2 linked regions of the Homo sapiens genome follow. The protein of the gene in region 1 purifies or fractionates together with the protein of each later gene. This does not show direct contact. Each region holds a gene or a part of one and is shown on either strand. Other genes may lie near its edges.

What was found.
Region 2: the proteins of SEMA4F (region 1) and USO1 purify together in Homo sapiens (affinity purification with mass spectrometry; 2 studies listed by BioGRID and IntAct, with this or other methods). This does not show direct contact.

The regions. Positions count from the first base shown.
Region 1 is NC_000002.12:74,660,635-74,664,457, forward strand, and holds part of SEMA4F (semaphorin-4F isoform 1 precursor), read left to right. Parts: intron 1-2,097; coding exon 2,098-2,191; intron 2,192-3,823. UniProt on the Homo sapiens protein: Probable cell surface receptor that regulates oligodendroglial precursor cell migration. Might also regulate differentiation of oligodendroglial precursor cells. Has growth cone collapse activity against retinal ganglion-cell axons.
Region 2 is NC_000004.12:75,804,371-75,808,193, reverse strand, and holds part of USO1 (general vesicular transport factor p115), read right to left. Parts: intron 3,055-3,823; coding exon 2,891-3,054; intron 1,709-2,890; coding exon 1,622-1,708; intron 1-1,621. UniProt on the Homo sapiens protein: General vesicular transport factor required for intercisternal transport in the Golgi stack; it is required for transcytotic fusion and/or subsequent binding of the vesicles to the target membrane.

The sequences.
Region 1 (3,823 bases):
GGTCATGTCTCTTTCAGACCCGAGTTAAATGTCATTTTGACCATGCAATAATCATAACCTATCTAGTTAATAGGAGGCTCACCTCTTCAAAGGTTAGAAACCTGGATGATATGATGATGCTGCTGGGGAAAACTGAAAAAGAACTAGTTTCAACATATTGAGTTTTAAGGGGCAGATAGGAAATCTCTGTGAGGAAGTCCAGCAGTCAAATAAAAATATGGGCTAGAGTTTAGAAGATATCAGATTTGGAGAGTTTGGGGAATGATTTGCATAGAATATCTGGCTGGAAAGAATGAATGAGATCTTTGAAGCATATGTGAAAGCTACTAAAGGTGGATTCTTAGGATACACATGTGGGAGCTAGAAAGAAGAAGAAGGAAATGGAGAAATAACAGATAGGAGGGATTCCAGAAGGGCAGAGTTTCAGGAGAGTCAAGGAATAGAATATTTCAAGGAAGGGAGTGAGTCAAAAGTATCAAATGGTGCATAAGGGTTAAAGAGAATGAGAACTGAGAAAAAGTTCATCCCTTTAGTCCTTGGAGAAATGTAAGGCAGTAGTTATAGGCATAGAAAACATTATTTGTCTTCCAGGAATAACAGGTGATCTGGTTTGGATAGAACAAAGGTCATTTTGAAAAGTAGTTGAAAATAAGTAGGTTTGGCTGATGAGGTTGTACTCCAGGCAATGGTGGACTATTTTCTCATTCTCTTGCACAAAAAGTTATTATTAAGTCAGTGACCAATACTTCAGATTAATCTTGGGTGGGTATTAGAATAACTTGGTTGGTGGGGGTGGCTAGATGATGTGGAGAAAGGAGTTTACTGCCATGGTTTAGGTGAGAGGTAAGAAGGGAAGCAGCAGCAGGTAAGTACCACATCTCTAGAGTGCCCAACCATCTTGTTAATCTCTCACCAAACCCATCTTTCTTCTCAGGTGAGGATGCTCCCACTGTCACACAGCTGGAGTGCTGTGCCTCTGTGGAGTCCTCCATTCCAGCAGACTCTTCTGACCCAGCATTCCGTTTTTGGGGACTTCAAAAGTTTTAACAGGCCTTCTTCCAGACTCTCAGTAAAATAGAATCTTGTTTGCCATCTAGAACAAGAGATGAGTAATCGGAGTGGGCCAGTAGTACACTTATTTTTCAGGGGATATATATCGATATTTCTGCAACAGCTACCATGGAAGTAATTAGGCTCCAATGACACCATATGCCCACGCCAGTTTGTGAACTAAAGATATCATCCCTGGCATTTCCGTGCCATAACTTTGACTCTCAACCAGCCACTGTTAACTTCCCTCTCAGTCCTAGGTTGAAATCATCCTTGTTTTTAGATGTTATCTTGAAGCCTCTCTTAGTGCCAAATGCTAGACTAAGGTAACTTCTGGCTGGCCCTGATGAAGCTCTTACACCTCTTGTTCCTTGCCCATGTCAGTCCCTCTGGAGTCCCTGGGTGAGGAAGGTACTTACTACCAAACTCTCACATTCTGACCTGAGCTTCAGGTCATTCTTTACTGACTTTGCTGGTTCCCCTGTCCTCTGCCCTTGGTCGTATGATGCAGCTCTGTCTTTCATCCTTGGGGTGGGGAATAGGAGGAGGATGGCCCTTGTCTCTCTAGGCCTCTGGGTTTCAGATGGTCCTTTATCAGCCTGCACTTTTCTTTGTCCTTTCTAAGGTTTCCAGTCCTCAGGAGGCCTGCTTTCTTCCTGATCCTTCTTGTCATGTAGCATATTCTCCAGCCAGTTACAAACCCTACAGTTCAGCAGTGTTTCAGAGGAAAGACCTACCTTCAGCCTCTTAGGTGCTTCTTGGGCTGTCCTAGGAATTTCTTCATCAGGGCATGTGGGTGTTGGCTGCTGGGGGAATTGAGGGAAGAGGAATAAACTGATGAACAAAGGATAGCAGAGATGAGAAATGCAGGAGTAGATGGGGGCATCAGGAATAGCTGACTGGTAATATGGGGATGATAGTTGGGGGTAGGGAGTGGAAGGGGAGAGGAATGGGAATTGACCTTTTCCTTCATCTGACCATCTTTGTAATTCTCACCATGAACCTTCCCTATGACCCCTAAACCAATTGCCCCCTTCTGGTCTATAGGATGTGTCCAGGTTCCAGCAGGTTGAAAGACTTGAGAGTGGCCGGGGGAAATGTCCTTTTGAGCCAGCTCAGCGGTCAGCAGCTGTAATGGCTGGTGAGTGGGGAGAGACAAGAACCTGTAACTTCTTGCTAATTGCCTCCTTCCCCACCCTTGCTGTTAGAATTTCTGTGTTCTTTCTTACCTTGGAATGTCTATTATTCTCATGTCTCTTTTTAGCCTTTCCTGTTCTTCCCTGAGTGCCTGTGTAACCACCTGCTTTTCCCCACCTAGTATGATATCCCCAGGATTCTCTCCACAGAATGTGTCCTCTGCACCTCTAGTGTAATGTTTCCTCTCTTAACCTCATTTTCTTTTCTCATAGTGTTTTTATTCCTGTTAATAAGTGGAATATACTACAATGCATATTGTAATAAATTTGGAAAAAGTATAAAGAAGAACATGAAGAAAACTTCTAGAACAGCACTTTCCAAAAGAACTTTATGTAATGATGGAAATGTTCTACATCTGCACTGTCCAATACAGTAGCCACTAGCTATTGTGGCTATAGAGCCCTTGAAATGTGACTAGTGTGACTGAAGGAAGGAATTTTAAATAGTATTTAATTTTACGTAAATAGGCCTGTGTGTCTAGTGGTACCGTATTAGTGTAATTCTAAAATATCTCTACTTAGAAAATTATTGCTAATATTTTAGGATATTTCCTAATACCCTGTATTCGTCCATTTGTGTTGCTATAAAGAAATACCTGAGACAGGGTAATTTATAAAGAAAAGAAGTTTATTTGGCTCATGGTTCTGGATGCTGGACATGAAGCATAGTGCTAGTATCTCCCTCTGGTGAGGTCCTTAGGAAGCGTACAGTCATGGCAGAGGGTGAAGGGGAGCCAGTGTGTCACATAGTGAGAGAGGGGGCAAGAGAGAGAGGGAGGAGGTGCTTTTTTAAACAGATCTTTTGTGAACTCAGAGTGAGAGCTCACTCATTACTGCCAGGACAGCACCAAGCCATTCATGAAACATCTGCCTGCATGACCCAAACACCTCACACTAGGTCCACCTCCAACATTGGAGGTCACATATCAATGTGAGTTTTAGAGGGGACAAAACATCCAAGCCATATCATATCCTAAATGGATATTAATGTGTGTGCACACCCATGTACATTCATGCACATACATTTGCTGCCAGTCCTTTGTTGCTCAGGGGAGTCAGTAATGACTATTAAATAAATTCCTGCTAGTACTTCTTTTGAACAAGCTGCCTGTGATTCCTCAAGTGTGAAATGATTCTATCACAAACCTAAACCTCTTCTGGAGAATGACTGTCTAATTTATTAGCAGCCACACAGCAAATTTTTTTTGTGCCACATAGCCTGAATTTTAGGTCAGACCACCCAACATGCACCTTCCAAATTCAGTGAAAAGCCATTTTCTTGTGGTAGTGTAAAGCAGGTTAATGGAAATTTTATGAGCATGTGCACAGTATAAAACTTTTAAATGTCATGCTACATGGATGTAATTTTGAATTTTGTCATGTAATTTTATATCACAGGCATTTCTATATAATTTAAAAATTCATTGTAAAGATAATGTTTAATGACATGTTACTCATTCTGCTAACCTACCATGAATTAAACAATTCCAAATTATTTATATAAATTTAGTTAGTTCAAAGATTTTGCTAGTATCCATATGACTGTAATGAACATCTTTGTGCATAAATTTTTGCTC
Region 2 (3,823 bases), on another chromosome or scaffold:
TCCCCCAAAAAAAGTACAGGAAAAGAAAGGCAATTATAACAATGGCTCTCAGCAGGAGTGATTTCTCCCCATATCCCCCCATCCCCGAGGACATTTGGTAATGTCTGGAGACACTGAGTAAGTGGTGGGACAATGGCAAGTAAAAGGCTCTTTTCTTTTGGTTCTCTTTAAAATTTCTATCATGTACATTTGTGGCTTTTCTAATTTATTTTGTTTAGTTATTAAAATGAGTTACAGTTTTCTATATATAGTACTTTACTATATATTATAAAAAACAAAACTGTCACTTAAAAAATACATATATTTTAACAATCTAAAGTTTATAAAAGTAAATAAACTGGAGAAAGTAAAAAAACTAAAAGGCAATTCTCTTTTTATAAAAATATCTAATTAAAGTTTCACTGGGAAAGATAATTAAATGGCTTATTTTTACTTAGAATTTACAAACTAAGGCTATATATTAGTAACTTAATTCCCTTTAATTTTAATACAGTTCTAGTATAGGTACACTTAATAAAACCAAAAGAGCATATTAATCTTCCCACACAAATAAAACATTGTGAACAAATATTGGAGACCTGAAAATCCTCAAATGATAAGTGATTCTTTTTTTAAAAAGAGGTCAGATATTTAGAATCTACTCTGAGGTACATGGACATTATCAAAATAAGACAAAATTTCTCTATGTTCAGTCATTTCTCTTTCAAAGCAGCCATGTCAGTGGACTAGGGCCAGTTGCTTAGTGGAGAGAGAAGGAAGACAGTTAGTCCTAGGTTAGTGAGGATGGTCATTTTTTAGTATTGCTTGGATTAAAAAAAAAAAAGTATGCATTTCTTTTATAATAAGAAAGAAAGGAGGGAAAGAAGAAAAGAGAGAGAAGAAAAGAGAGGAGGAAAGAAAAACAACCCCAGAACCTGTTTAGGGATAATATACTCTAGAGTTTTCTTCCAATTGCTACATTATTTAATTGTAAGTATACAGAGTTCATTTCTCTCTTTTGATTCTTTTCTTGAACAATACATTTAAATTTTTTCATTGGATAAAGGTAAATCTGTATGATCTAGTTTAACAGGAATTTATAAATACTATAAGCAAGTAGAAAAAAGTTTAACTTGCTTTTCTAGATGTTATAAATTACCACAGAAAAAGTTTATTTTGCTTTTTAGCTGGAGTCATTTAATTGAGATATAGGTAAGTTTACCTTTCTTCTCTTTTCCAATTCTAAAATTCTATATTTTCTAGACAAAACAGTTTAAAAACCCCATACATTTAGTCAAGCAATTATCATAGTATATTAAAATTAGGCATAAGATTTTACATTTTCATATTTGCAAGTTATAAATTTAAATTTTTCCTTGTTAGTTCACTGATAATCTATAAATAACATGGGTGAGATGCTGAGATTTTTTAAAAGGAATACCTCTGAAAAATAAAAACACAATAAAAAGCAAAGTACTATTACCATATAAATAGAAACAGCTTCTGGATTTTCAAATGGCTGTCTTAACTTAAATTTTACTTACATCTGCTAATATAGTTCTAGATTTGTGAAACTATAGGGCTGTTATTCTATTATAATTAAAACATGACAAAGTAGAATTGGATCAAAGTGGAAAATTACCTGTTTTAATTCTGCAACTTGTTCAGAATCTCTAGCTGAAACTATTGCTGAAGACTGTTCATTTGTGCCAGATGTTTGGGAAGATTTCTGCAAATAGCACAAAAATAAACTATAAAATATATTCAGTCTAAAGAGATGAGAAAAAAAAACAGAACTGTACACATATAAACTATATCATATGTGCTTACCAAAAAATTCACACCAACCTTTTAATTTTTATGCCCAAGATAAAATTCCAACACAGCACATATTGTCTACAACTTTTTCATGGCTAAAAATCCATTTGTAGGCTGGGTGCGGTGGCTCATGCCTGTAATCCTTGGGAGGCCAAGGCCAGTGGATTGCTTGAGCTCAGGAATGCAAGATCAGCTTGGGCAACACGGTGAAACCCTATCTCTACTAAAATACAAAAAATTAGCCGGACGTGGCAGCGTGCACCTATAATCCCAGCTACTCGGGAGGCTGAGGCAGGAGAACTGCTAGAACCTGGGAGGTGGAGGTTGCAGTGAGCCGAGATTGTGCCACTGCGCTCCAGACTGGGCTAACAGAGCGAGACTCTGTCTCTAAAGAAAAAAAAATAAAATTTTTATTTTACCGAGCAATTTATTAAATCTAAGCATTTACCTGCGTTCATATGGAGAAAGAGCATAAAAGCAAACATTTATTAAATAATTTCCATCTATTAGAAGAGTAAATTAAATCTCACAACAATGAACTAGACATTACCACTACCATTTTATAGATCAGGAAACAAGTTTAAAGAGGTTAACTAAATTGCTTAAATTCAATGAGCCAGGAAGCATTGAAGTTTAAACAGTTTGACTCTAAAGCTCATCCTGTAAAATCTTTTTTTTTTTTTTTTTAGATGGAAAGTCTCCCTCTGTCGCACAGGCAATGAGGTGAAGTGGGGTGATCTCGGCTCACTGCAACCTCTACCTCCTGGGTTTAAGAGATTCTCCTGCCTCAGCCTCCTGCGTAGCTGGGACTACAGGTGCCTGCCACCATGCCCGGCTAATTTTTGTATTTTTAGTAGAGACAGGGTTTCGCCATATTGGCCAGGCTAGTCTTGAACTCCTGACCTCAGGTGATCCGCCCACCTCAGCCTCCCAAAGTGCTAGGATTACAGGCGTAAGCCACTGTGCCTGGCCCATCCTGTAAAATCTTAACATATGATATTCTGGCTTAAGAGATCCAAGGAAAAAAAAAAAAGGCAGGATAATGAGAACCACTCTTGAACTCTTATTTTAACTTCTTAAACATTTACTTTACCATATTTTCAATCATAGAGTCCTTTTCAGTCAGCTGGCTTTGTAAAAGTTCCTGATTACGTTTTAATTCTTCTATCTCTTCTCGCAATCTACCAATTTCTTCTGGCTGAATGCCATTCATCTGAGCCCCCTCACTGTAAGAACCTTGATGCTGATTGTCTTTTCCTGTTAGACAGACATAACATTTTAAAAGCCAACGGGAAACTTCAGTTTTTCATTTTTGAAGTAGAAGATTCAAATATGTAATTTTCTTCATTCAATTACTTTGGCAGCACTTTTGCAATCACATTTCATCTTTGCAGAATGGTATACTGATAAAAATAGTGAACTGATAGTATTTTCCAGATTTCTGGGAGAAAAAACAGCACAGCCTTGACTAAACTGCATGGTCTGGTGATCTATGATTAAGAATTACAGTAATTTTAATTCCAATTCTGTCAACTGAATATGAGAAAATAAAATCCTTTTAAAAAATCTTCACAAGCACCGTAGGATAATACTATTTAAAAGCAGTGGAGCTCTTGCCATTTTCCAGGCACAACTTAAATTTTTCATTTATTATATCATTTAGTTCTCAAATGTTATTACTATCTTCATTTTGCAGAAGAGGAAACTGAAAGATTACAGCGGTCATTCTTAATCAGCTATACATTAGAATCACCTGGTGGGCTTATACTAGTTACTGATCCCTGGACCTAATCCCAGATTTATTAAATCAGAAACACTATTGTGGTATCAGCATTGGTATTTTTTTTTAAAAAAGCATCTCAGGAGATTCTAATATGCAGCCAGGGTTGAGAATCAATGGGCCAGATAAACAGGTAGCAAGAAGCTTGGACTTCAATCTCTAAAGGTCCAGTCTTAACTGCTCTTAACTATCATGCTATTTTGCTTTAAACTCCGATTTACATTTTTGTCACCATGATTAAGGTTA